4 linked regions of the Homo sapiens genome follow. The protein of the gene in region 1 interacts with the protein of each later gene in a pairwise test. Each region holds a gene or a part of one and is shown in the gene's direction. Other genes may lie near its edges.

Region 1 (7,025 bases):
TCTCATTACCACTCAAAGCCCAGGGCTTTATTTAATCTTGAATCTCAATAAACCCAAGGCATAGCCCAGGGTTCAACAAGAATCTGATCAGAGGATATAAAAGTGGAGGTTTGGGCTGGTTGCAGTGGTGTGTGTCTGTAGTCCCACTGCTTTGGGAGGCCAAGATGGGAGGATCACTTAGCCATGAGTTCACTGGAGGCCAGGAGTTCGAGACCAGCTTGGGCAATATATAGCAAGACGCCCATCTCTACCAAAAAAAAAAAAAAAAAAAAAGGGAAGTTTGGGCCAGGCGTGGTGGCTCATGCTTGTAATTCTAGCACTTTGGGAAGCCAAGGTGGGAGCATCACTGGAGCCCCAGAAAAGAGACCATCCTGGGTAACACAGTGAAACCCCCAGCTATATGAAAACATTTTTTTTTTCAAATTAAAAAAATTAGCCAGTTGTGGGATGTGTGCCTGTTGTCCCAGCTTCTCAGGAGGCCGAGGTGGTAGGATTGCTAGAACCCGGGAGTTCAAGGGTGCAGTGAGCTATGATGGCACCACTGCACTCCAGTCTGGATGACAGAGCAAGGCACTGTCTTTAAAAAAATAGAACACGGGCTGGGTGCGGTGGCTCACGCCTGTAATCCCAGCACTTTGGGAGGCTGAGGCGGGTGGATCACGAGGTCAGGAGATTGAGACCATCCTAGCTAACACGGTGAAACCCCGTCTCTATTAAAAAAATACAAAAAATTAGCTGGGTGTGGTGGTGGGCACCTGTAGTCCCAGCTACTTGGGAGACTGAGGCAGGAGAATGGCGTGAACCTGGGAGGCGGAGGTTGCAGTGAGCCAAGATCGCGCCACTGAACTCCAGCCTGGGAGACAGAGAGAGACTCTGTCTCATAAAACAAACAAACAAACAAACAAACAAACAAAAACATGGCCGGGCACGGTGGCTCAGCCCTGTAATCCCAGCACTTTGGGAGGCCAAGGCGGGTGGATCACTTGAGGTCAGGAGTTCGAGACCAGCCTGGCCAACATGGTGGAATCCTGTCTCTACTAAAAATATAAAAGTTAGCTGGGCGTGGTAGCATACGCCTGTAATCCCAGCTGAGGGGGCTGAGGCAGAATTGCTTGAACCCAGGGGGCGGAGGTTTCAGTGAGATGAGATCACGCCACTGCACTCCAGTCTGAGCAACAGAGCAAGACTCTGTCTCAAAAAATATAAAATAAAATAAAAAATAAAATAAAATAGGGAGATACCCAGGCAATCTAGGTTCGTTGGTCACCCTACTTAATCCCATCTCCATCCCTAATCCCAATTGCATTCTTACGTCCAACCCCGTCTGTAACCTAATCTCCAATCCTCCACTGCAATCCTAACCCTGTTTCCATCACTTCCTCTTGGCGCATTCCCATCCTCAGCCCAGCCCTCACCCTGAGCTTCTCTTCTCCAGGTTCAAGTGCTCCACCAAGACCTCCAAGGGCAGGTGAGTTGGGGCTGGGGGTGTAGGAGACCCAGAGCTGGCTTTGCCCTGCTCTGGCCCTGACCAACCATTCCTCCCTCCTCAGCAAAGGAAACAGAGAAACCCCCACTTCCTTGCAAGCCCCGGAACATGACAGGTGAGAGCTGACAGTTGGAGTCTTCCTGCTCACCTGGCTGAAGCCCTTCTTGAAATGACTTTCTCATCTCTTCTAGGCCTGGACCTCGCCGCTGTCACCTGTCCACCTCCTCAACTGGGTGAGCAGTGGGAAGACCCTTTAAGATGCCTAAGAGGGGATACCTGGATGTTTCCTTTCAATCCCCCAATTTTTATTTATTTATTTTTTTTGAGACAGAGTCTCACTGTCATCCAGGCTGGAGTGCAGTGGTGCGATACTGGCTCACTGCAACCTCTGCCTCCTGGGTTCAAGTGATTCTCCTGCTTCAGCCTCCTGAGTAGCTGGGACTACAGGCACGAACCACCACACCTGGCTAAGTTTTGTATTTTTAATAGAGATGGGGTTTTGCCATGTTGGCCAGGCTGGTCTCAAACTCCTGACCTCAGGTGATCCACCCGCCTCAGCCTCCGACAGTGCTGGAATTACAGGCGTGAGCCACTGCCCACAGCCAGCCCCCTAAATTCTGACCAGAGAACAAAACAGAGGTTGTTGATCTTGGAAGACAGAGTCTTTGGCATCTTCTGAATAAACCTCTCTCCCCCTTTCTCCCAGCTGTGAATCTTGAGCCTTCTCCATTGCAGCCATCCCTGGCCGGTAAGTGTCCTCCCATTTCCCCTCTGACAGTGGCTAGTGTATCTGATTGAGACCTATGGCTCTACAGTGAGACCCTGAGTCAGAGGAACTTCTCCTTTAAGAAGCTGCTCCTTCAGGACCTGCTGCACTGTTCTGAGTTAGTCTAGTGAGCGCTGCTCTAAGTGAGAAAGCCATTCCTTGACATCAGAGTTTGCAAACGTGTATTCTTTTTTGTCCTTCTGAGGACCAGAGTTATGTGGTTGTTTTGTTTTTGATAATGATGATGTACTTATGGTTCTGTTGGTGATTGTGATGGAAGGATGAGGAAGGAGATGATGGAAAGGAAGAGGATGGTTGGTGGTAGTAACGATGGTAGAGGTAGTGATGGCGTTGTTGTGTGCTGATGGTGATGGTGGAGATACTGATGATGGTGGTGATGGTGGAGATAGTGATGGTGTTGTTGGTATTGATGATGGTAATGATGGTGGAAACAGTGATATGGTGGTAATGCAGGGCGGAGGTAGTGATGGTATTGTTGGTGATGGTGGTGGTGGTGATGATGAAGGTAGTGATGGTGTTAGTGAGATGGTGATGATGATAGTGGTGGTAGTGATGGTGTTGGTGGTGATGGTGTTGGTGATGATAGTAGAGGCAGTGATGGTATTGTTGACAATGACAATGTTGTTGGTAGAGATGATGGTGGTGATGGTGGAGGTAGTGATGGTGTTGGTGATGACCATGTTTAAAAAGAAAAAGAAGCTTCTCCTCTCTGAGTCTAGGCCAGATCTCCAGAAACTCAGGTATCTGCTTGCATAAGATATGGGAAATGTTCTCTGCTCTAGAAGCCGGGGTCCACAAGCTTCCTTGACCTAGGAGCAACTTGGTCAGGGGTTTCTGGAGAGTAGAAGATGATGCATCATAGATATTAAGAACAAAGCTGTGTCCAAGTCATGCCTAACCTCACCAAGCCTCAGTTTACTCACTTGCAAAATGGGAATAATGCTTATAACCTACATCATAAGGATGAGACTCCAATAAGATAGGAAGGATGTAGGTTGGGTACAGTGGCTTACGCCTGTAATCCCAGCACTTTGGGAGGCTGAAGCAGGGAGGATCTCTTGATGCCAGGAGTTCAAGACCATCCTGGACAACATGGCGAGACCCCCATCTCTGCAAAAAAATAAAATAAATTAGCTGGGCCTAGTGGCACACATCTATAGACCCAGCTACTTGAAAGGGTGAGGTGGGAGGATTGCTTGAGCCCAGGCATTAGAGGTTGCAGTGAGCTATAACTGTGCCACTGCCCTCCAGCCTGGATGACAGAGTGAAACCTTGTTTCAAGAAGGAAAGAAGGAAAAAGAGAAGGATGCAACATGATGCTTAGCGCACCGTAAATGCATCAAAAAGACCCTGAGCCTCCCCAGGGTTCACTCTCCCTAACCCTCTCTTGCTGACTTCATCTGCTGAAACAGTCATGACTACAGACTTCTGCCCCCTGCTCTTGGACAAAGACTTAAGAGTCTCTTCCTTACTCTCTGAAGCCCCAGTATCAGTCTCTCTGTTCCCATCCCCACTCCCCAGCAACTCCAGTCCCCTGGCTCAATCAGAGGTCTGGAGGTCCTGGCTGCTGCCAGAAGAGGTGGATGGTGTACCTGTGTCTGCTGGTGGTGACTTCCCTGTTCCTGGGCTGCCTTGGTCTCACTGTGACCCTGATTAAGTGTGAGTAGGGCCAGGAAGGGACATGGGGAGAGATTGGGGAGGGTGCACAGGAGGACCTGGGCTCAATTTGGACTCTTCTTCATAGACCAGGAGTTGATGGAAGAACTGAGAATGTTAAGCTTTCAGCAGATGACGTGGCGAACAAATAGTGAGTGCTTTCAGTCATTCCTTCATGCCACTCCTATTGAGCCCTAACCCAATCCTCAGATCCAACTCCAAGATCCAACCTCATCCCCATCTTTGCTGGGCACTGTGCTAGGTACCAGGGGGTTAAAATGGTAAACATGTCAGACACAGTCTTTGTCTGACTGTGTGAAGTGTGCATGTGTATATGTGTCCAGACCTCCACCATCCAATATGGTGGCCACAAGCCATATGTGGCTGTTGAACACTTGAAATGTGGCCAGTCCAAACTGAGATGAGCACTAAGTATGAAATACACACTGGTCCAGGTGCAGTGGCACATGCCTGTAATCCCAGCACTTTTGGAGGCTGAGGCAGGATTGCTTGAGGCCAGAAGTTCGAGACCCGACTGGGCAACACAGCAAGGCTCCATCTCTAAAAAAAATTAGCCGGGTGTGGTGGTGTGTGGTGTGTGCTTGTCATCCCAACTACTCAAGAGGCCGAAGTGGGAGGATCTCCTGAATCAGGGAGTTTGAGGTTGATCATGAGCCATGATCACACTCAAGAGATCCTCCTGCCTCAGCCTCTTGAGTAGCTGGGACATAGGCGCATGCCATCACACCCGGCTGGTTAAAAAATTTTTTTTTTGTATAGAAGAGGTCTCACTATGTTGACTAAGCTCGTTTCAAACTCCTGGCCTCAGGTATTCCTCCTGCCGCAGCCTCCTGAAGTGTTTCGTGCCTGGCCTAAAACCTGTGTTTCTGTTTTGTCCAACTGAAGGGCCAGCTACTGAGCTAGCGAGTGTTGAAAAAGGGAAGAGTTCGTGGGGGAGTAGTGATAATACACACGTTAATTATAGAAGAATCTTTTGACCTGGGTTGGCCTTCATCATGACTGCCAAAGTCTGAATATTTCTCCATTCCACACTGCCTCACCCTATGCTTCATAACAAGCAAGCTCAAAACCCATCAATGGCTTCTCATTGTCCAGAGTCCAAGGTGAAACCTTTAGCTTGGCATTCAAGGATCCACATATTAGGCTGGGCACAGTGGCTCATGTCTGTAATCCTAGCACTTTGGGTGGCCAAGGTGGGAGGATCCCTTGAGGCCAGGAGTTCAAGACCAGCCTGGGCACAGCAAGACTTTCTTTCGTTTGTTTGTTCTTTCTTTCTCTCTCTCTCTCTCTCTCTCACTATCTCTTTCTTTCTTTCTTTCTTTTTCTTTTTCCTTCCTTTCTTCCTTCCTTCCTTCCCTTCCCTTCTCCTTCCTTCCTTCCTTCCTTTCTTCTCTCCCTCTTTCTCCTTCCTTCCTTCTTTCCTTCCTTCTTACTTTCTTTCTCTCTTGCTTTCTTTCTTTTGACAGAATTTTGCTCTTGTTGCCCAGGCCGGAGTACAGTGGCGCGATCTCAGCTCACTGCAACCTCCCCCTCCCAGGTTCAAGTGATTGTCCTGCCTCAGCCTCCTGAATAGCTCAGATTACAGGCATCTGCCACCACTCCCGGCTAATTTTTTGTATTTTTAGTAGAGATGGGGTTTCACCCTGTTGGCCAGGCTGGTCTCGAACTCCTGACCTCAGGTGACCCATCTGCGTCAGCCTCCCAAAGTTCTGGGATTATGGGCATGAGCCACTGCGCCCGGCCTAGCAAGACCTTGTTTCTACAACAAATTTTAAAAAAATAGCCAGTCATGATGTCATGTACCTGTAGTCCCAGCTACTCAGGAGGCTGAGGTGGGAGGATCACTTGAGCCCAGGAGGTTGAAGCTGCAGTGAACCACGATTGCACTCCAGCCTGTGGGACAGAGCAGGACTGTGTCTAAAAAAAATAAAATAAAGGATCCAGGCATCTGAGCTCATTCTGCTTTGATCTCAAGCTTTTCTGAGTTTTCCCTCCACTCTTATAGGCTTTGCCGCCTCACCACAACATACTTGCCTCTGTATCTTTGCTTTTTTTTTTTTTTTTTTTTTTTTTTGAGATGAAGTCTCACTCTCTTGCCCAGGCTGGAGCACAGTGGTGTGATCTTGGCTCACTGCAACCTCTGCCTTCCGGGTTCAAGTGATTCTCCTGCCTCAGCCTCCTGAGTAGCTGGGATTACAGGCATGTACCACCACGCCCAACTAATTTTTGTATTTTTAGTAGAGACAGGGTTTTACCATGTTGGCCAGGCTGGTCTTGAACTCTTGACCTCAGATGATCCGCCCACCTCGGCCTCCCAAAGTGCTGGGATTACAGGTGTGAGCCACCATGGGCAGCCTGCATCTTTGCTTTTAAGATAGTCCCTGCCTAATGTGCCTCTTCCTCACCTCACAGTTATCGAATCACTTTCTTCCTTTAAAACCCACTTCTTTCAGGGTGCCCACCACCCCTACTTTTCCCCACATCCCCGGGATTGATCCCTCCTCTGAGCCATTCTCGGATTCTGAGCACTGTACATGTGGTTTTTGAGCGCAAGCGTGACCCACTGGAATGTGGACACAGTGGGGAACACAACCCTTGCTTCTCTCTCTGATGTGTCTGCAGTCCGTGGTGGATGGGTAGGATGGGTTCTCAGTCTGTAGCCCTCAAGCCCATCCCTTCTGACAGTGACTGGCATGGCAGGGCTAGCTGGCCTGAAGCATGACATTGCCCGTGTAAGAGCTGACACCAACCAGTCCCTGGTGGAACTTTGGGGCTTATTAGGTAAGTGAGACTTGGGGAATTGCCCAGGGATGGGGGGCATGGCAGAGCTGGCACATTACATCACTCCATTGAAGTCATTCTCAGTGCAGTCTATGTGAATGGTGCCCCTCCCCCTCACCGGAGTTGAGCAGTGTACAGCCTGCACAACTGTACATGGCATACTATGTACATGGCTCAGGTTCTGGGGCCATCCTGACAGCATTCTGTCTGGTTCCCAGACTGCCGCCGAATTACCTGTCCTGAAGGCTGGCTGCCCTTTGAGGGCAAGTGTTACTACTTCTCCCCAAGCACCAA
Region 2 (7,025 bases), on another chromosome or scaffold:
ATGTGAAAAGTTCATATGAATGATTTACTTAAATTAGTAAAGTTCACACTCTGAAGTCTTTCTGGCCCATCCCCAAGCTCTTTTGTGTCTTCTCTAACTCCATGGATGATTGCCATTTTCCTGAACACCACTGAGCATCCTTTAAGTGTCAGCTGAAGAACCTTGAGTTTTTTCCTCAAATGGATCTTTACAGACCCTTCATTTTGTCTGCACCAGGGCAGGCACACCACACATTTTTATAGGTAACAAACTCCAGAATATGCCTTGCTTTTTTTTGTGAAAATCTAGGAGAACCACATTTTATTTAGCAGAGATGACAGTTGAATCACTCATTTTTGTAGAACAACAGCTGCGATGTGCCACCAAAATGTTCCAGAGAAGCTGAGGGTGTTTCATTTGTTCCAAGAGCTGGCAAGGCCAAATGCCAACAAGCATATTTATTTCTCAAACTTCCATTTCTGTAATGGATTGGCACTTTATTTATTTTTATCATAGTCAAGGTTTTATGCCTGAGTTTTGTAGACACTGGAACCTGGCAGCCCTATATCTGCAGTGCACTTCTCAGGGGGACTTGTTAGGTTTTATATATAGTGAGCCCTCCATAGCCTTGGTTCCGCATCTGCAGATATAACCAAACTCAGATTGAAAAATTTCACGGAAAAAAACTAATAAAAATAACCATGTAACAACAGGAACTATACAAATAAAAAACAATACAACAATGATTTATATAGCATTTACATTGTTTTAGGTATTATAAGTAATCTAGACTTGATTTAAAGTATTTGGGAGGATGTGTGTAGATTGTAGGCAAATACTGTACCATTTTCTGTCAGAGTCTTAAGCATCCTTGAATTTTGTTATTCTTGGGAGGTTCTGAAACCAATCCACCATGGATACTAAGAGGTGGCCGTATATATGTTTTAACCTCCCTATCCACCAAAATATCACCAGCTTTGTCATCCTCCGAGTTATGGTACATCCAATGGCAGTGAGCATCAGTTGCCCGAGGAGATACACTAGCAGTGCCAAGGACTGTTTTTTCGACTTTCATTAAAATCCTTTTTGCCTGAAGCCCTAGCCCTTCAGGTCTGTGGTCTATGAGTCTACTTTAATTTGCACAATGGGGTTAAGTGGAAGGGCTGAAATGACAGAAGTTAGGATTGCTTTTGGTATAAGAAGGATTAAAGGCCAACATCTGGCTCTAAATTCATCCAGGCACTGTGGATCAGCTACTTGATATTAGTGTAGTTTTGGGAAAAGTATCACTTCAGTTCAAATTTTTAAAAAGCATATAAAGCCAGCAACTTATTTAATGAGCAGGTCCTTAAAAAAGCCATGGCATTTTCTTTAGAGATCAGACACAGAAAGAACCACCAACTGTGTTTATTAAAATATCCACTTGGATATTCCAATTATACACTAAACTGCCAAGGGAATTTTTGGAAGTATTTTAACTTAATGATCAGACATTCAAATATATGCAACAAATCTGTAATTTAAAGGTCTGATTGCAATAATCAGTTCTTGGAATAAATGTGGGTGCACTTAATGAAATGTGTACTCTACAGGGCACACACACTCACATATTGTGTAGTAGGTTGGATCTCTATGCCACTTTGTAAAAGGCAGAGGGGATCAAAACTAATTGTATATGGCGATCAAAGAAGGAATTCGGCATAGCGCATTTCTCCCTTCTCCAGAAAATACTTAGATGTAGAGCCATGTTTCTAAATGGAAGGAGGGTGGTGTTGGCCGTGGCAACGATTTTGTCCCCAGGGAACATTTAGCAATGCCCAGAGACATTTTTGGTTATCATAACTGGAGAGTGGTTGGATGCAACTGGCATGAAGAAGCCAGGGATGCTGCTTAATATTGTGTAATTCACAGCACAACCCCCACAAGAAATGACAATCCAGTCCCAAATGCTAACAGTGCTGAGGTTGAGAAACAATTAGAGTAAGTGTGTTGAAGGGAGGAGAGATGGCAAGAGACTATGATACAAACCAGTTTAGTTTGGGGAGTTAATGTCTTCAAACATTAAAATGGAGATTAAGAAAAAAGGGCTCAATATCACTTGATCATTAGAGAAATGCAAATCAAAGCCATAGTAAGATACCATCTCATACCAGTCCAGAATGGCTATCATTAAAAAGTAAAAAAATAACAGATGCTGGTGAGATGGCAGAGGAAAGGGAACATTTATACACTGTTGGTGGGAGTGTAAATTAGTTCAGCCATTGTGGAAAGCAGTGTGGTGACTCGAAGAACTAAAAAGAACTATTATTCAACCTAGCAATCCCTTTACTGGGTATATGCCCAAAGGAATATAAATTGTTCTACCATAAAGATACATGGGCGTGTGTGTACATTGCAGTACTATTCACAATAGCAAAGACATGAAATCAACCTAAATGCTCATCAATGGTACACTGGATAAAGAAAATATGGGCCATATACACCATGGAATACTTTGCAACCATAAGAAAGAATGAGATCATGTTCTTTGTAGGAACATGGATAGAGAGCTGGAAGCCATTCTCCGAAGCAAATTAACACAAGAACAGAAAACCAAATACCACATGTTCTCACATATAAATGAGAGCTAAATGATGAGAACACATGGACACAAAGAGGAGAACAACAGAAGCGTACTTGAGGGTGGAGGGTGAAAGGAGGGAGAGGAACAACAACAAAAAAATCTATTGGGTGCTAGGTTTAGTACCTGCGAGACAAAATAACCTTTACAACAAACCCCCATGACATGAGTTTACCTATATAACAAACCTGGGTATATACCCCTGAGCCTAAAACCTTTTTAAAAAATGGAGATTAAAATATACCTGCAAATGATGATGCTGAAGCAAAATTATGTTTAGCCTAGCAAAGTATAAAATCTACCTCCCTTCAATTGGAGTAATAAGTTCTTTGTATATGGATAGATTTTAAAAATCTAGTTAAATGTATTTTTGATCTATTTATTTACAAAACACAATGATTGGCAAGAATCAAATAGTTCTCAACTCAAGGGCTCGGTAGTGGAAGAAGATGGTGTGATACTACTCAGGGAATTGGCTTGAACCTTTTGATTTTCTTTCAGGTGAGGGAATATGTCCAATTAATTAGTGTGTATGAAAAGAAACTGTTAAACCTAACTGTCCGAATTGACATCATGGAGAAGGATACCATTTCTTACACTGAACTGGACTTCGAGCTGATCAAGGTAGAAGTGAAGGAGATGGAAAAACTGGTCATACAGCTGAAGGAGAGTTTTGGTGGAAGCTCAGAAATTGTTGACCAGCTGGAGGTGGAGGTAAGGAGTGAACTCACTTCTTGGTAAATTAATAATAAACTCCCTTCAGTGACTGTAAGCAAGTACTAGTACCAGGAAGTGAAACTATCTCTTCCAACTTCTAATTCTCTACTGTCTCATGGCCACATGGCATATCACTATGTTCTGTTTTGGATAAGGGCATGTGTTTGAATAGTAAGTTAAGCACATTGGGAATGTGCTGACTTAGGAGCAGATGTTGTCTAATGGTCAGAATCCTGCCCCAGAATAAAATGCCCTTTCAACTTCTCTGAAAAGGAGCTGGCATAAAGTTGAACAACGGTTCATGGCCAAGCTATATGAGGTGTCTTCTCTGCTCTAGATTTATCCTCATGGAACTAGAAATCCACAATATACCTGATTGTGGTAAAATTGCTAGGTTTGTTTCTCCTTTTGAATAACCTGGAATCCTTCTCTGCAAACTGGAAACCCCCTTTAAGAAATTTCTTGTATATTTCTGTAAAGCCTTTTAAGATCTGTGGATAAAGACCATCACATTAACGTTATGGTTGGGTAATTTATATCAACAAAAATTTACTAGCACAGTCATGACATGGGCTATAATTGAGAATTCTAGTTACGTATTTTAGAATTTAAGCTTTCTCTGGCCCTCACCATTCATTAGAATCTTAATTATAATACAACATGAGTAAACACAAGTTTATAGGGGAAGGTTATTAGAAATGAACTTTAATGGACATTTGTGGATGCTGAGGATGAGCTTGGGCTCTATTATTAAAGCTATTAAAATCTTTGCCATTTTCTTCTTGTCACACACATCTGCCTGAGATCTGACAGGCATTCATGCTAAACCATAAAATGTATTCTTCCAAATGAAACCATTCAGAAGAATCTCTGGTGTATTCTCTGGCAATGTTTCACTAAATGACAAATTCAGCCCTGGAATGTTTATGAAAGAAATTGCACCATAATATAAAGTCACTCTGAATTTTTATTTCCTTAGATAAGAAATATGACTCTCTTGGTAGAGAAGCTTGAGACACTAGACAAAAACAATGTCCTTGCCATTCGCCGAGAAATCGTGGCTCTGAAGACCAAGCTGAAAGAGTGTGAGGCCTCTAAAGATCAAAACACCCCTGTCGTCCACCCTCCTCCCACTCCAGGTAAGCATGCCAGTTTTTTTAACCACTTGTGCCAGACCCCATAAGGAGCTGTGAGTGGGGTGGGGAAGGGATTGGGGATTGCAATGGTGAAAGAAGAAGGTGGGTTGTTTTTTTTTTTTTTTTTTCAGTTCTCAGTTTTCTCTTCCATGTTTTAAAATTCCCTTCCTCCCAAGTATTCTACATGCTATCATATTCTGGGTTTCAAAGAGGAAGAGCACAAACAATGAGTTGATTTAAAGCAAAATCCACGAGTTACACGTATTCTCTTTGCATTTTCTAACAGGGAACAAAAATCTCTATGGTGATGGAGGCCCTATCAGGGGCCTCAGGGGAAAGCCTCTGGAATCTGTGTGTGGCATCCACTTTCCTGTGGAGTTAAGGACTGATTGGCTCACTTATCTGATGAGCTGGGTTTATGCCTTTGATGCTGCCATCTTCTCTCTCTCCTTCTGTTTCTCTTTAATTTTTTCTTTTTTCTTCCTATAAATGCATGCTGAGCACCTGCTATATTGTGTGTCCTGAGATTCAGTGAGGATTAAAGGAATGACCCCACATATCATGTGCTTGTGGGTGTGTCTTGCCATTCCTCATGGATTGTGAGTTCTTGGAGTAGGGGTGGCATGTTCGTCTTTAATGAATTCTCATTGGGGTTAAGTACAGCACAGAGGTGGGTGTTCTGCAAATATACCCATGAACAGAGGCAGTGGAGTGTAGGGTACAAGAACATAGCTTTAGAATTCCAAAGACCTGAGCTTCTCAGCTAGGTGGCTGCAGCAAAAAGGATCCTTAATATCCTCATTTGTAAAATGGGAGAATAATAGTGCCTGCCTTGCAGGGTGGCTGTGGGGATTAATGAGTCAGTGCTTGGGAAGCTCGGAACCTTATGATCGGCACTCACACGCTGGCAATGGATATTGTTAATAATGTTGATAATTGAAGCGAAAGCCTTGCAGCAAAACAAAAGCAGTGCCAGATTACTGTGCCCTGCAATGCATTCCTTCAGGTAAACTAAAGCCTCTCAGCCACAGTGTTCAGCCCCATCCTTTAGAGATATCAATGACACAGGGACCTTCTCTCTGCAGGTCCTGAGCATCTTAGCCTGAGTGGGGACTGTATCTTTTCATCAAATCATGCAATCCTTTTATTTTTATGAATTCCAATCCTCACACCTGCTTTCTTTTAGACTGTGTTTCTGGATTATTGTCATTGTAACTGATTTTTTAAGGCTTCAATTATTAAATAGGTATAGCCATAGATATAAGCCTCTTGGTCTTCTTCAGGTGGATTTTTTTCCTCCCTCTGCAAATAGGAGTGTGTCCTACTATGACAGGTGTCATCTAATGGTTAGAATCCTGCCCCAGAATGAAATGGCCTTTCAACTTCTCCAGAAAGGAGGTGACATAAATTTGAACAACTGTTCAAATTTCGCATCCTGCATAGGAGGTTTAGGGCAGACAACATGGTCTGTCCTCTGTAATAAACTAAGGCTAAATTTAGTCTGGGATTAGTGGTGCAAAAATGTAGCAAATGAGAGCTGTTTCTGGTGGACCACAGAGGACTCACTGAGGCAGAGGCTGAAGCAATGACAACTCCTGATAATCCCTGAACGAGCTCCCCAACACCCCTTGCAAATCCTCCTCATGGAATAGATTTTTCTGGCACAATTTTCTATGCATCCCTTAGAATGAGGACATTTTAGATGAAGGAATATTCAGGGCCATCTAACTTAGCCTCGTCTTGTCTCAGAGGAGAAGACGTGGATGGTAAGAACGCTGCTTTTCCTGAGGCCACACAAGTAGTTAATGACAGAGCAGAAGCTGCAAGGCAAGGGTCTTTGCTCCCTGGTCAGTTCAGGACCGAAGGTGTCAGGCAGCAGTAATCCAAGGACAACGGTGGGGAGAAAATGCATTGCTTAGTATCCAGGGAAGAAAACAAGTGAGCCTGTTGGGTTGTTTTTGTTGGATTTTTTTTTTCCCAGAACTTTCCCCTAGGCCCTCACACTTAGACTTCTGTGATCCATCCTAGCCCAGCTGTGTTGTTTAAGCAAATTGGACCCAGATTTTTACTCACTTTCCCACAACCTTGGCTGTACCTGAATCCCTGCCAAGCCACTTGGCTCTCTTCCAGCTTTGTTCATATTATATTTATGATGTTTATATTAAACTGACTTTTGGTCATGTTTTTAAATCAATTTCTTTCACTTGCTCTCTTTCTGTTTGGATTGGTTGATAATGCAGAATTGGAAAATCCCCAAGCACCACAAACTTGTGAGCCTGTGGAGACTTTAATTAAAGTTATTCTCTATTATGGGACTTTAAAATCTGGCCTGTCTGCTTTTTTCACTGCAGAGTTGCACAGAATAAAAAAGACTATATGCAAGTCTCAGCTCTAAAGTAACTCTGCGCTCTCTGGGCCCCCTCCCTTATAGCTACAGTTTGCTGACCCAGTGGTCAGCTTGAACTTAGAACAAGTGAATGTATCCCAGGTTCAATAAAATATGCTTCCTATTTGGTTTTTGCTACAAACAACGTCCTTTTTCTGCCTCATTTCATAGAACTTTCTAATCTAAA
Region 3 (7,220 bases), on another chromosome or scaffold:
GGCCTGTTTTGTTTTTGTTTTTGAGACGGGGTCTCGCACTGTCACCCAGGCTGAAGTGCAATGGTGGGACCTCGGCTCACTGCAACCTCCGCCTCCCGGGTTCACACAATTCCCCTGCCTCAGCCTCCCAAGTAGCTGGGATTACAGGCGCACACCACCATACCTGCTAATTTTTTGTATTTTTAGTAGAGACGGGGTTTCGCTATGTTGGCCAGACTGGTCTCGAACTCCTGACTTTATAATCTGCCCGCCTCAGCCTCCCAAAGTGCTGGGATTACAGGCGTGAGCCACCGTGCCCAGGCTTTTTTTTTTTTTTTTTTAATAGAGAAGAGATGTCACTATATCACCCAGGCTGGTCTTGAACTCCTGGGCTCAAGCAATCTTCCCACCTTGGCTTCCCAAAGTGCTGGGATTACAGGCTGTGAGCCACAGCGCCTGGCCATAATTTTTTTTTCAGTTTTGTAGAGATGGAGCCTTGCTGCGTCACAAGGCTGGTCTCAAACTCCAGGTCCCAAGTGATCCTCCTACTTCAGCCTCCCAAAGTGCTGAGATGACAGGCATGTGTCACTGTGCCTGGTGAGTCTGCCATTTTTTATTTCATTTTATTGAGATGGAGTCTCACTCTGTTGCCTAGGCTGGAGTGCAGTGGCATGATTTCAGCTCACTGCAAGTTCCACCTCCTGGATTCAAGCGATTCTCCTGCCTCAGCCTCCCAAGTAGCTGGGATTACAGGCATGCATCACCACACCCGGCTGATTTTTGTATTTTTAGTAGAGACAGGGTTTCACCATGTTGGCCAGGCTGGTCTCAAACTCCTGACCTCAGGTAATCCACCCGCCTCGGCCTCCCAAACTGCTGGGATTACAGGCGTGAGCCACCGCACCTGGCCAAGTCTTCCATTTTAAATGTGAGAACATTGAAGTCCACCTAAAGTTACATGGTATCTCATCAACAAGAGGACAGTAGCTGCCATCAGAGGCTGACATGGCCATGCAGCCAAGTAGACATGTTTTTCTAATTGACTGGGAGGCAGAGAGTGGCACTCTGGAAGGAGAACCCTGGGCATGTCAGACGGACCTGGGTTCTGATCCCAGCTCTCCTGGTTGAAGAACTGCCATAGTTCAAGTGAAAAAAAAAAAAAAAAAAAAAAGGTGCCACAGTCCAGAAAGAAGTTTGTTTTAGGAGATAGTCTTCTAGGCTGAGCAGACTAGAGCTGTTAAGAGCTCCCTGAGGGCAGAGACTTATCTTACCTTTATATCCCTGGTGGCTAGTGCAGTTCCAAGGACATAGTTGGTACGCAATAGGAGTGCTTGAATAGGAGATTTGGAAGAGAGGAGGCAGGGGAGGGAACTCAAGAGAGTTTAGAATCAAGAATCCAAGGAGGAGACAGCCTAGAAAGAGTGGGTCCAAGACAGAGACTTCAGGCATGTGGCCCTGGTTCCCTTACTCCAAGCCATTGGGAAATCCTCCAGAGGAACATGGTGCTGTGGCTTTAACTGACTTCAGCATTGTCAATGAATCTGCTCTGCTAAAAGAGTTATCCTCTTGCTCCTGGGCTTGGCCTCCCCCTCCTCTCAGCTCCCCAAACCCTTCTCGGCTGCTGTGATGGGATAATTAGATGCGAGAGCTCAGCACAGATGATGCTCCAGTTGCTTAGCAACTAATGGTTTCCATGGAGACCGCAAAGCACAGCCTCCAGAGCAGCCAGTGAGCAGCTCGGCAGGGCAGGGAGAAGACGCAACTCCCCGCTCCTCCAGAAACCTGGGGAGGGCTGGGGTGGGGAAGGTGGGGGGGGGGGATTGGAGGGAGAAGGGAGAGCTTAAAGGCACAGGGCCCTCTTATCCCTTTAAAATCTGATCAGAGATCTGCCCTCCCCTACTCCACTCTGTACCACTCATAATTTTAGATGGGGATGGGGGCTTAAGAGTGGACCCAACTCAACCCACCCTGCAATAAACCCAACCTCTTCTTTCTGCTTCTTGGTTGTGAATGAGGAGAAAGACCTCCCAGTTCAAGTGTAAACAACTTACTGGTGGGTGACAGGTTTTGAGGAGTACCAGGAAGATCCCCTCACCCTGGCATTCCACCATTTAATCTGTCCCCTCTCTCCCAAGTTGTCCTTAATGTGCAAGAGACCCTCTTTCCATTTGTGCAGTGGTGGTGGAATCAAAAGCCAAGGTGCAGGAAAAACAGAACCAAATTCTTCACCCAAAAGCAGCCTGTTCGGGCAGATTGGGAAGGAACACCTGCCCTGATCCCTGATGTCCGTGGAAGAGGATCCAGCTGGGGGTGGGGATGCTGTTTACCAATACAGAGCAGCTGGCAACTTCAAGTGTGGGCCTTTCAGACCGGCATCATCAGTGTTACGGGGAAGTCACTAGAAATGCAGAATTGATTGGGCACGGTGGCTCACACCTGTAATCCCAACACTCTGGGAGGCCAAGGCGGGTGGATCACTTGTGGTCAGGAGTTTGAGACCAGCCTGGCCAACATGGTGAAACCTCATCTCTACTAAAAATGCAAAAATTAGCTGGGAATGGTGGCACATGCCTATAATCCCAGTTACTCAGGAGGCTGAGGCAGGAGAATCGTTTGAACCTGGGAGGCAGAGGTTGCAGTGAGCCGAGATCACGCCACTGCACTCCAGCCTGGGTGACACAGCGAGACTCTGTCTCAAAAAAAAAAAAAAATGCAGAATTTCAGGCTTCACCCCAGACCCACTGCATGACTGCATGAGAAGCTGCATCTTAACAAGATCCCTGGTAATTCATACGCATATTAAATTTGGAGATGCACTGGCGTAAGACCCTCCTACTCTCTGCTTAGGCCCATGAGTTCTTCCTTTACTGTCATTCTCCACTCACCCCAAACTTTGAGCCTACCCTTCCCACCTTGGCGGTAAGGACACAACCTCCCTCACATTCCTACCAGGACCCTAAGCTTCCCTGGGACTGAGGAAGATAGAATAGTTCGTGGAGCAAACAGATATACAGCAACAGTCTCTGTACAGCTCTCAGGCTTCTGGAAGTTCTACAGCCTCTCCCGACAAAGTATTCCACTTTCCACAAGTAACTCTATGTGTCTGAGTCTCAGTTTCCACTTTTCTCTCTCTCTCTCTCTCTCAATTTTCTGAGACAGAGTTTCACTTAGTTGCCCAGGCTGGAGTGCAGGGGCACAATCTCGGCTCACTGCAACCTCCACCTCCTGGGTTCCAGTGTTTCTCCTGTCTCAGCCTCCCGAGTAGCTGGGATTACAGGCACACACCACCGCGTTAGTTTTTGTATTTTTGGTAGAGATGGTGTTTCGCCATATTGGCCAGGCTGATCTCGAACTCCTGACCTCAGGTGATCCGCCCACCTCGGCCTCCCAAAGTGCTGGGATTACAGGCATGAGCCACCACGCCCGGCTGATCTCTTTTCTATTTTAATAGAGATCAAACTCTCTGTGTTGCCTAGGCTGGTCTTGAACTCCTGGCCTCGAGTGATCCTCCCACCTTGGCCTCCCAAAGTGCTGGGATTACAGGCATGAGCCACTGTGCCTGGCCTCAGTTCTACTACAAAAGGAAGCCAGTACCAGCTACCACCCAGGGTGGCTGTAGGGCTACAATGGAGCACACAGAACCCCTACCCAGGGCCCGGAAGACGTCCTGACTCCTCTCCCCTCCCTCTGCTCAGAACTCCTCTGCTTCTTTCTGATGTAGCCCAGGGCTGGAGGAGGCAGTCAGGGAAGTTCTGTCTCTTTTTCATGTTATCTTACGAGGTCTCTTTTCTCCATTCTCAGTTCAACAAATGGTTGCTGCCCAAGGCTGACTGTGCCCACCCCCAACCCCTGCTGGCCAGGGTCAATGTCTGTCTCTCTGGTCTCTCCAGAAGTCTTCCATGGCCACCTTCGTCCCCACCCTCCAGAGGAATCTGAAACCGCATGTGCTCCCTGGCCCCCACAGCCCCTGCCTCTCCCAGAGCAGCAGTACCTAAGCCTCAGTGCACTCCAAGAATTGAAACCCTCAGTCTGCTGCCCCTCCCCACCAGAATGTTTCTCTCCCATTCTTACCCACTCAAGGCCCTTTCAGTAGCCCCTTGGAGTATTCTCTTCCTACATATCAGGGCAACTTCCAAACTCATCACCCTTCTGAGGGGTGGGGGAAAGACCCCCACCACATCGGGGGAGCAGTCCTCCAAGGACTGGCCAGTCTCCAGATGCCCGTGCACACAGGAACACTGCCTTATGCACGGGAGTCCCAGAAGAAGGGGTGATTTCTTTCCCCACCTTAGTTACACCATCAAGACCCAGCCAGGGCATCCCCCCTCCTGGCCTGAGGGCCAGCTCCCCATCCTGAAAAACCTGTCTGCTCTCCCCACCCCTTTGAGGCTATAGGGCCCAAGGGGCAGGTTGGACTGGATTCCCCTCCAGCCCCTCCCACCCCCAGGACAAAATCAGCCACCCCAGGGGCAGGGCCTCACTTGCCTCAGGAACCCCAGCCTGCCAGCACCTATTCCACCTCCCAGCCCAGCATGGCACCCCTGCTGCCCATCCGGACCTTGCCCTTGATCCTGATTCTGCTGGCTCTGCTGTCCCCAGGGGCTGCAGGTCTCTTCCATCTCTGGCAGGGGTGGGAAGGGGGCTGGGGGCCTGGACAGGGAGCACTGTACCTTCCAGGGCTCTCAAAGAGAGGTCTGGACAGTTGGGAGTCAGGGCTGGTGATGGCAGTGACTGGGTATCAGACACTGGGCTCAGGGTACACTCCTGATCCTCCTCCAGACCTAGGAGGCAGAGAGGTGTGGGCAAGGATCCGATGCTGCGGGGAGGGGTGAGGTTGGGCGCTGCCCGACTCCTGGCATCCAGGTTCTGGCTCTGGGGACCGCTTGGTGGAGGGTGCAGCTTCTGCAGCCCAAGCCTGCCACCTGGTGGTCATACTGGCACAGGCCTGGCTGTTCTGCCCAGGGTTCACAGAGTGGAAAGGGAGATGGCTCCAATGGGACCGGGCCAGATCTGTTGGCCAGGAGGGGTCAGTCCCCATCGGAGCTCCCTCCTGCCTCCCATCAGACTTCAACATCTCAAGCCTCTCTGGTCTGCTGTCCCCGGCGCTAACGGAGAGCCTGCTGGTTGCCTTGCCCCCCTGTCACCTCACAGGAGGCAATGCCACACTGATGGTCCGGAGAGCCAATGACAGCAAAGGTCTGCTACCTTCTCCCAAGGCATCCCTCTAGTCCCCAAAGACCCCTTCCTGCGACACCCTCTGCACCCTTTTCCCCATTCATGCCTTCCTGTCCACCCGTCTCCTGGGGTACCCACACTCTAAAAGCTGCCCCTTCTCCTTGGGGCCTCCAGAAACTTGACCCAGTCTTCCCCTCCCGCCACTTCTGCCCAGTGGTGACGTCCAGCTTTGTGGTGCCTCCGTGCCGTGGGCGCAGGGAACTGGTGAGTGTGGTGGACAGTGGTGCTGGCTTCACAGTCACTCGGCTCAGTGCATACCAGGTGACAAACCTCGTGCCAGGAACCAAATTCTAGTAGGTACTGGGTCCAGCCTGAGGCACCTAGGGAAGGGGGTGCAGGAAGAGAGAGAAGCTAGTGTGGGGGAGATCTGGTGGGCATGAGGAGAGGGTGAGGGCACAGCAAAAGGGGGTGAAAGCTGGGCCTCTTGGAGGAGTGCACATAGGGGAGACACAGCTGTGAGGGTAGGTGGCCCAGGCTGGAGCCCCTCTTCCTGTAAGTCCCAATACTCACTGAGGGTTCTCTACTCTCTCCCAAACCACAAAAGCATTTCCTACCTAGTGAAGAAGGGGACAGCCACTGAGTCCAGCAGAGAGATCCCAATGTCCACACTCCCTCGTAAGTAACACTCCCGCCTCCCTTTCCCATCTCAGCGGCCACAAACGCTTCCCTGACCATTCCTGCCTCATCCCCAGTCTGGGTTGCCTGTGCCTCCCCGTGCGCCCTCGGGGCCCCTGCTTACCTCTATCCTAGCACGGAACCTTCGGCATGGCTACTGCACACTCAGCTAAAGGTTCCTCGTGGGCAGGGACTGTGTCCTCTTAACTTTTCCTCAGCGGCTGACATAGGAGATGCTTCATAAATGTCTATGTGATGGGTGTTTGGATCCATCAGCTGGTTGGTTGGTTGGTTGGTTGGCTGGCTGGCTGGCTGGCTGGCTGGCTGGTTGGTTGGGCAGTCTGTTGGCTGGATGAGTGTGAGGCCGTGAGCCTCAGGCAGGCTGGGGGTCTCTCCCGCCCACAGTGGTCTCCCCTCTCTTTTGACAGGAAGGAACATGGAATCCATTGGGCTGGGTATGGCCCGCACAGGGGGCATGGTGGTCATCACGGTGCTGCTCTCTGTCGCCATGTTCCTGCTGGTGCTGGGCTTCATCATTGCCCTGGCACTGGGCTCCCGCAAGTAAGGAGGTCTGCCCGGAGCAGCAGCTTCTCCAGGAAGCCCAGGGCACCATCCAGCTCCCCAGCCCACCTGCTCCCAGGCCCCAGGCCTGTGGCTCCCTTGGTGCCCTCGCCTCCTCCTCCTGCCCTCCTCTCCCCTAGAGCCCTCTCCTCCCTCTGTCCCTCTCCTTGCCCCCAGTGCCTCACCTTCCAACACTCCATTATTCCTCTCACCCCACTCCTGTCAGAGTTGACTTTCCTCCCATTTTACCACTTTAAACACCCCCATAACAATTCCCCCATCCTTCAGTGAACTAAGTCCCTATAATAAAGGCTGAGGCTGCATCTGCCACATGTGTTTCCCTTTAGTGGGCTCTACCTTGGCTCAAACCTGTGGAATCTATGTCCAAGCTGCAGGTGCTCCTGGTCCCCTCCCTGCCCCACAGCCCAGAGTTACTTTTCCCATGAGGCAGGCAGGGGCCAGTAAGAGCCCAGCAGTCAGAGTTCTCAGAGACACACCGGGGCTGTGGGTTTGGCAGCATCCACAGTACACAGTGGGCCACTCAACTAGGGGTGCAGGTCAGGGCAGAAGCTGGGGCTGGTGCCCCATGTGGAGGCCTGGAGGCCTGGGGGTGGGGGTGGGGGGCAGGCAGAGCAAGGGAAGTGCTAGGGAAAAGAGGAGAGGATCTGTCTGGGAAAAGACAGGCCAGGTGCAGTGGCTCATGCCTGTAATCCCACCACTTTGGGAGGCCAAGGCGGTCAGCTGGCTTGAGGTCAGGAGTTTGAGACCAGCCTGGCCAACATGATGAAACCCCGTCTCTACTAAATATTAAAAAAAAAAAAATAGCCAGG
Region 4 (7,039 bases), on another chromosome or scaffold:
TTGTATGATATTTTAAAGGCATTAAGTATTTCAAACCCATTAAGAAAATTGTTATTATTGTACAAGTCACTTTAAAAGAATAAATTTACCCACCAGGCTGTTAGAGCCAAAGTATTTCCTTTGAACAGTGAATAATCCATAGTGATGTCCTTATACTTTTATACTGTAATTAGAATTAATAACTTAAATGTTGCAAATGTTGCTTCTAAATAGAACTACTGCTGTGTATTTTGTGAAGCTGCTCCTTCTTAGGGTTGGAGATCAGCTTTTTGGCAGCATGATTCATCACCTAGCTATATGCTTTGTTCTTACTTATACAGGAAAGGATTAACAAAATTTTATAGGGCAATCTATAATCCTCACAAGTATTAAATTCTGTCAGTGTTTTTTTTCTTGCACATATATTTCCACTTCGTTGCAGCATTCTCGTCTTCATTTTGAGTGCTTCTCTATTCTAGATGTATCAGCTACTAATTGAGCATTTAGCATTAAAACAGATGTGATATATACAGAAATGCATTCAAGAAAAGATCAAACAAGGAGGCTGCCAATCTGCAGTTGGACTTTAACCTGCTTGCTTTTAATAGCTCTTAAATATAGATCCCAATGTATAGGCTTGGTGTGAATATCATTAAACCTTTCCCACTGTTCCCTTAAGCTTTGAATGTTCACTGATCTGTGAAGATAGCTGAATGGATAAATAAACTTAGACCTGGCAAATCAGAGAGATTTTAGAAATAGAGCTAATCTTGACTTTTTTTTTTTTAAAGCAAAGCTTTATGTTGCCTGATATATTTTTTTTAAAACAAGAAGACAGAAATAAAAATAACACACATAAACTGACTAGCACTTTTTTAAAATGAATTAAAAAGTGGCGGGGTTATTAACATGTATTCTAGCCTGCTTGTCTTTCCACCTTCATTTCCCATTTGCTGGTAGTTGCATGAATTTTATTTGGCCTGAACCCCAGAGTGCAATAGAGAGGCGATGAAGAGAGAAGGCACTAAGGGAGAGGGGCCTAAGGGCTGAGATATATGTTCCCGCCACTCATTTTAATCCATGTGTTCTTTTTCTGAACCTTCCTTTCAGTGAGTGTTCAGCTGTGTTCAATGTTGCCAAAAAGCAAGGAAGATGAACACTAAAAGGACTCTTTGGCTTGAGGCAACCAGAAGCCACTAGTGACCTTGTGAAATCAGGTCCTGTAGAAAGGTGAGGAGACAGTTCAGATGTCTGCTGGGTGAGCCATGAAGGGGGAGGTTGGGAAGGTTAGGAATTGGAATTTAGTGGAAGTGGGCCAGTCTGTCAAGAAGCTCAGCAACCATCGCTAGAAGTGGAGCTCCTCAGGGCCCTGTTTACCAAGGAATCTCCTAGAGTTGTTCAGTGCACAACCTGAACAAACAGAAGCCAGGACCCAGTATTCGTGTTGTTTATTTTTTGCAACACCTAACACAGAACATATCTGACATTGAGAGCTAATGAATGATCCCTGGATAAGTGAAAGAAAGGACATACACAAAGGAGAGAAGAAAAGATTTTTACAAAGAGTCTATTGATAAGAACCATGTTTATATTTTGAAAGTTATATAGAGTTTTTGTTCAATTTATTTTGAGAATTAGGCAGAGTTAGACAGAAACACAGTAATAATAATAATACAGCCTTGTACTGGCATGAAGACTGATGGCTTATAGTCTTTTTTTCAGATTCATTATCTATTTCTTCATGGAAAAGTGCATCATAGGACATTTAGGAAAGAATTGCAAATTAAAGAACATTAAAGGTGAGGCTTGAAATAAAAATGTAGAAGTTTTTAAAGTAGATTTCTAACTAATAATAACTCATGATGTTGTGTAACTAAAGAGAAAGACTAAGTTACACCCAGGAGTGGCCCTGGATCAGAATGGGTAAGTAGAAGCACAGCATATATAGCCATTTATACATCATAAAATCATCCTGTTTCATCACAATTCCGTGTGTATCTGAGCTGTGTACAGCTCGGTATAGTATTCTAGGCTTCCTATTTAATGTTGCACCAGAGAGCAGAAATTTTAAGAATTCAGAGAAGAGATATAAAGATTATTAAAAGCGAAAGAAATAGGATCTAATATAAAATGTTCAAATGGAACTTTGGTAAACCCTTATTCATTGTTTTAGAATTCATGATGATTCACATAATATAGCTGCATAAGGGGAAGGGCTGATTTTAATAATTTCCATTATAATTATCTTTAAGAAGAAAGGTTTAAATTTAGCTCCAAGCATAACACCAGATCTTCATCAAATACTCTTTGGTTTATCTAGTTCGGCTTCTCTGAAAGGAAAGGGCATTCTAACAAAATTTTGGAGTGGTTAGTGCCTGACTTTTTGCAGCAAGGACAGAATGAAAAGAAATGCGCCAACACATTTAGACTAAGTAAGCAGCAGAGGAGTTTGTTTAAACAGAGGTTGTCAGAGGAAGTTATGGCATCTACTTCTCTGGAGACTTTTTAAAATAGGCCAGGCACTCATCTCTCTGGGATGGTTTCAGCCTGCAGAGTAGCTAGAGGACAGCCCCAGGCCTTTTCAGGTTCCCTTCTCCCTCTACGAGTCTGTAGGCTAAACCATATCCGAGAAGGCCTCTTTGGCAGGGTAAGCTACAGTCACCCAGGCTCATGTCTAACTATGATATTTTCTCACCGCATGGAATGATAATTATAGGAAGGAGGGTGAGGTCGGAAAGATTCCTCAACCACACTCTGTTGGCATTGCCAAAACAGGCACTCCCTCTGCCAGAATTGACTAAATGCAAGAGGGATGCCAGTTAGTACAGGATGATCGTGCTCAGTTGGATTTCATGTGTCCCATTGTCTTACGGTGTGTGGTATGTGTGTGTCTGAAAATAGGGTAAGTAAAATGAATTGGAAAGAAAATTCAGTTAAAAATTAGGAAAACAAATGGGGAAAGAACCTGCATATTGTCTTGAGGTTAGACTCTAACATCAAGCATTCGATCCTAACATTTAGCATTTGATTTGAAAGGTTCCTTTGGGGTCCGAGGCCTATCCTATCCAGGATTGTGGTCCGTTGTGAGCAGATGGGGTTTCCCTCTTAGAAGATGAGCTTGGTTCCAGTTTCCTAGAGCCTTTGGGTAATGGCCGGTTGCTCACAAGAGCTGAGGAGACAGCATAGCTGACAGGCACAGTCAGAGGCAGCTTTAAATATCACGCACCCCATCATTTGGTGGGTGGGTGTGTTGTCGCTAACTGTGCCGCCACTTCAACAAAGAAAGTGGTGAGTTGCCAAAAAACAAGGATGCTCCGTCTTAAGCATTAGGCTGAATTCTTCTTAGAGAAGTGTTTTTTTAATGAAGAATTTTATCCTAAAATATTTTCCAAATTTACTTATCCAACGAAAGTAATTTAAGCATTGTAGCAAGTAACTAGAATCTGCAGAATGAGAACAACTTTCTCTCACAAAAATCAATCTTCTTTATTCATCGAGTGGTCTCAGGTGCCCTGTGTGGGGTGGGGGCTTTCCCAATGCCACAATTATGCAGGCTGCTCAGAGAGACACTGGACCTGGCAACCAACTGCCCAGCTAATTTACAAGCAGGTGACAGGTGGTGAAACTATGATTTTGATATTTTTAAATGGTTCTTTCCTTCCCATAAATGCTGCTTTTTGGAAAGGTCACTTTAGTTTTCTTTAGGAAAATGAGCCTTTTCTCCCTCTCCCAAATGCTAAGTTGATGCCCTTCCCCAGAAGTCTTCCTGTTAATTGAGTTGGCCTGAAGGTCATCAACAATAATCAATATGAAGACTTGCTGCGACGTGCTAATTGACACTCCCAAAGAGGAATAGTGTCAACAATCAATAAAGAGGACAGAGCACTGGTAGATTTATGGCTTTGATTTTGAAAAGGTATAGGAATGCCTGTGATGTTTCCCCACCCCCCAACCCCGTACTCCTTTTGAATGTTAATGCTTTCTTGAAGATGATTTCAGACACACTGCTAGGATACTGCCTCTACTCGCTGAAGCAGAATCCTCTGAAGAGTTGCTGAGGCAGAACTGAAATCATGGCTCACCTCAAAGAAGCAGCAGTATTGGCCGTTAATGATGCCTCACACAGAAAGACGATGCTCCTTTAACTCGGGGTTTTAATGGGAAGTTTCTAAGCCTGAAACAACAGCTTTAGACCTGGGGTGTGCCATCAGCTGCCTTGCAGCTACCACTGTCTACTGCTTTCACACAGCGTGGTCGGGAAGAATGGAAACTAAAGAGGCTTGTAACTACCTGTAACTGTTCCACCAGGAAATGGATCAAGTGTTTGTTCAGCCAGAGCCAGGTACTTGACCCAACCTGTATCTTTGACGGGCTAATTAAATGCTTTTCTCTAACTTTACAATTGATGCATGAGCAATCATCGCATACATGCCTTTCGGATCATAGTTGTGAATTTAGATCTAGCTGTTAGATAAGTCTAATTAAACAATTGCTAGATAAAGTTAAGAAGCGAGGGGGTAAAATGTAATGATGCCTTTATTTTTAAAGCATGGTTAAGTTTATAATGTTATTGATACTGGATGAAGAAGTAGTAAAACAGGCTTTTTTTTCTTTCCTAAGCTGCAGTAATTTATTTCTGAAAGCTGTTTGCCCATTATCGTATTTTTTTTTTCAGTCACCTAAAACGTCCAACCTTCCAAAATGTAACAAGGATGTTCTGATTTGTTTACAAAGGATCACAACTCAACCACTCATATTGACAGCGTTGACTGTCCCTGGCTGATAAGCTGTGTGCAGCACTATCCTTTTGAGATATCAGCAAGTAGCCGTTTTCACTATGAAACACACAAAGAAAGACAAAGAAAACCAGGTGGAACAGTAGGGCTTATTATTTGAAGTTAAAAGTTCCAGTTCGTTAAGGGTGCCTTCTGATACCACCGATTCCTGACTAGGCACCCTCATGGTGTTTTCTGATGTTCTCAGCTAGGCAGTAGCCTTGCCCTGCAGTCCCTTAAAAATTCCTCAAGCAGATATTAAGAGGAAGATGAAGATGGGGAAGAAGTAAAGCTGAGATTGGGGCTGAGGCTGAAGACAAAGGTCTCCTGCTGACCCAGAGCTTAAAAGCAGCAGTGAGTTGAGAATAACAGGGTCCACTCCCAGCCCAAGCAGACGTGTCTGCAGGCTGACTTTGCAGAAACAAGCAGAGAACAGACTTCCCAGTGCAGCAGTGGGGGCTGGCAACAGTTCTGAAACTGCCTGTTGACATCTGTAGCTGAAGACATCCTCATGTTTATGAAATCATTGTTCGTAGGCTTTCTAGTAGACTTGAGTCTATGTTTTGAGAGTATAAAATATATTTACCCTTAGCCCCCCTTTGAATTTTGAAGCATCAGGGCTATTGTATTGGAACAGGAGGGCTGTACTTGGAAAAAAATATAGAGATGTTGCCGTGTATATGAGCCAAAAACAAGGGGAGTGGGAGGATTTAAAATCTATGAAACACCTAGAAAGAGCCAGGAAATCTTTACCTGAAGTTCTTTGCTGGTAAGCAAGAGGGCCATGAATTCTTTGAATTTATATGAAATATTTTGTATCTTTGTGTGTATATCCTGAATGCAAGTTACTGTTCACTAGAATAATACACAGAATTTCTAAAAGATTTGTAGGGGAATAATATTTGCTTATGTGGTGATTCTGTTGCTTAGATAACGAGGTGGCTTATACAGATGACTCACAGTTGTGGTGGGGATGGATAATAGGATCATTTGGGAGATTTACACATCTAGGGTGGGTGAGTGGGTTGGAGAATGAAATGTACTTTGAGAGACTACAGTTATACAAACAGGAATGCAGCCCAGGCTTCCTTTAGTGCTAAAAGTAGAGAGGGATTCTATTTAGGCTCAGTATCAGGATGTGTATTACTTGAATCATTCAAAGCCATGTTAACATTTCCACAGTTAACTTCAGAACTGTTGCAGAATAATGCAGCATTTTGAGTAAGTTTGTCTCTGTTGGTCACCGCAAATTCAGTCCTGCCTAGCTAGGCAATTCCGTTCCTGTTAAAGTCTAAAGATTGGTCTCGCTAGTCTGCCAGATAAATATAAATAAGGTTGATAGTATATCTTTGCAGGATAAAGTGTCCTGTCTATCACATGTGAATGGAAACTGGACAAGCCCAAGAGTGTCCTTGCTCAATGGATGGGCTGTTTTGACACCTACTTTTGAAACCACGTCAAGTCACGTAACTAGGTTTCTGATCCAGAAGTTTTAAAAATTAGGTACTGCAATTATGTGGTTTAGGAATATTTAAAATACAGACAGCATTGCTTCACTGCACCCTACAGGCCGTTAACACCTGAGGGATGACACCTTCAATTCATTCCAACGTGCCAGTGAAAAACTAGGGATCTACCATCATTTGGCGTTGGGGTGGTAGGGGGTGGTGCTACCTTTTTGGTAACGATTTTTATAATTCTGGGCAGTTTATTTATAATTTTCATACCTTAGTGTGCTTGATCACATAATAGAAATTAAAAATAAATAACATTTTGCACAAAAATGGTGTAAAAAGAAAACACTCATTCATCCCCACCTACTTATCAAATCCCCACTATGTGCCAGGCAGGACTACACAGGTACTGCAACTATTAATTAGATCATTGCACCCTATTGCAAAAGGGTGGGCTCTTGAGTTGATGACCTGTAGAATCAAGTCCCTGTGTGTGGCTCCACAGAACAAGGTGTCCAATGCACTTAAGTAATTCTGTCGCTGTCACTTAAAAAAAAAAAAGAAAAGAAACATGTCATTGCTTTAAGATACATTTTCTTCAGAGAAAGTATTTTTTCCTTACTGTGAAATTGTATAATGAGATGCTAATGAAATAAAATGTCCAAGGGATCCAAGCCTGAGAAGGGTACATGTTGACATTAATAGTTTTTGTGTAAGACATTTGGATTCAGGATATTTTAAATGGCTGCCCTTCCCCACCAAAAAGTAGATTAGGTAAGAAAGAATTGACCTCTTAAATAAAAGGGTAACTTTCAATTTCTGGCTGATTTT

Evidence for each region.
Region 2: the proteins of CLEC17A (region 1) and OLFM4 interact in binary tests that used the Homo sapiens proteins (3 or more experiments, as listed by UniProt).
Region 3: the proteins of CLEC17A (region 1) and UPK2 interact in binary tests that used the Homo sapiens proteins (3 or more experiments, as listed by UniProt).
Region 4: the proteins of CLEC17A (region 1) and CTXN3 interact in binary tests that used the Homo sapiens proteins (3 or more experiments, as listed by UniProt).

What each region holds. Positions count from the first base shown.
Region 1 is NC_000019.10:14,593,082-14,600,106, forward strand, and holds part of CLEC17A (C-type lectin domain family 17, member A), read left to right. Parts: intron 1-1,435; coding exon 1,436-1,468; intron 1,469-1,550; coding exon 1,551-1,601; intron 1,602-1,677; coding exon 1,678-1,719; intron 1,720-2,192; coding exon 2,193-2,234; intron 2,235-3,794; coding exon 3,795-3,932; intron 3,933-4,017; coding exon 4,018-4,080; intron 4,081-6,572; coding exon of another isoform or gene 6,573-6,610; exon of another isoform or gene 6,611-6,635; coding exon 6,636-6,731; intron 6,732-6,949; coding exon 6,950-7,025. UniProt on the Homo sapiens protein: Cell surface receptor which may be involved in carbohydrate-mediated communication between cells in the germinal center. Binds glycans with terminal alpha-linked mannose or fucose residues.
Region 2 is NC_000013.11:53,038,810-53,045,834, forward strand, and holds part of OLFM4 (olfactomedin-4 precursor), read left to right. Parts: intron 1-3,100; coding exon 3,101-3,313; intron 3,314-4,295; coding exon 4,296-4,455; intron 4,456-7,025. UniProt on the Homo sapiens protein: May promote proliferation of pancreatic cancer cells by favoring the transition from the S to G2/M phase. In myeloid leukemic cell lines, inhibits cell growth and induces cell differentiation and apoptosis.
Region 3 is NC_000011.10:118,951,840-118,959,059, forward strand, and holds UPK2 (uroplakin-2 precursor), read left to right. Parts: upstream 1-4,458; 5' UTR 4,459-4,511; coding exon 4,512-4,587; intron 4,588-5,043; coding exon 5,044-5,175; intron 5,176-5,368; coding exon 5,369-5,507; intron 5,508-5,758; coding exon 5,759-5,829; intron 5,830-6,257; coding exon 6,258-6,394; 3' UTR 6,395-6,720; downstream 6,721-7,220. UniProt on the Homo sapiens protein: Component of the asymmetric unit membrane (AUM); a highly specialized biomembrane elaborated by terminally differentiated urothelial cells. May play an important role in regulating the assembly of the AUM.
Region 4 is NC_000005.10:127,645,068-127,652,106, forward strand, and holds the start of CTXN3 (cortexin-3), read left to right. Parts: upstream 1-4,014; 5' UTR 4,015-4,321; intron 4,322-6,675; exon of another isoform or gene 6,676-6,754; intron 6,755-7,039.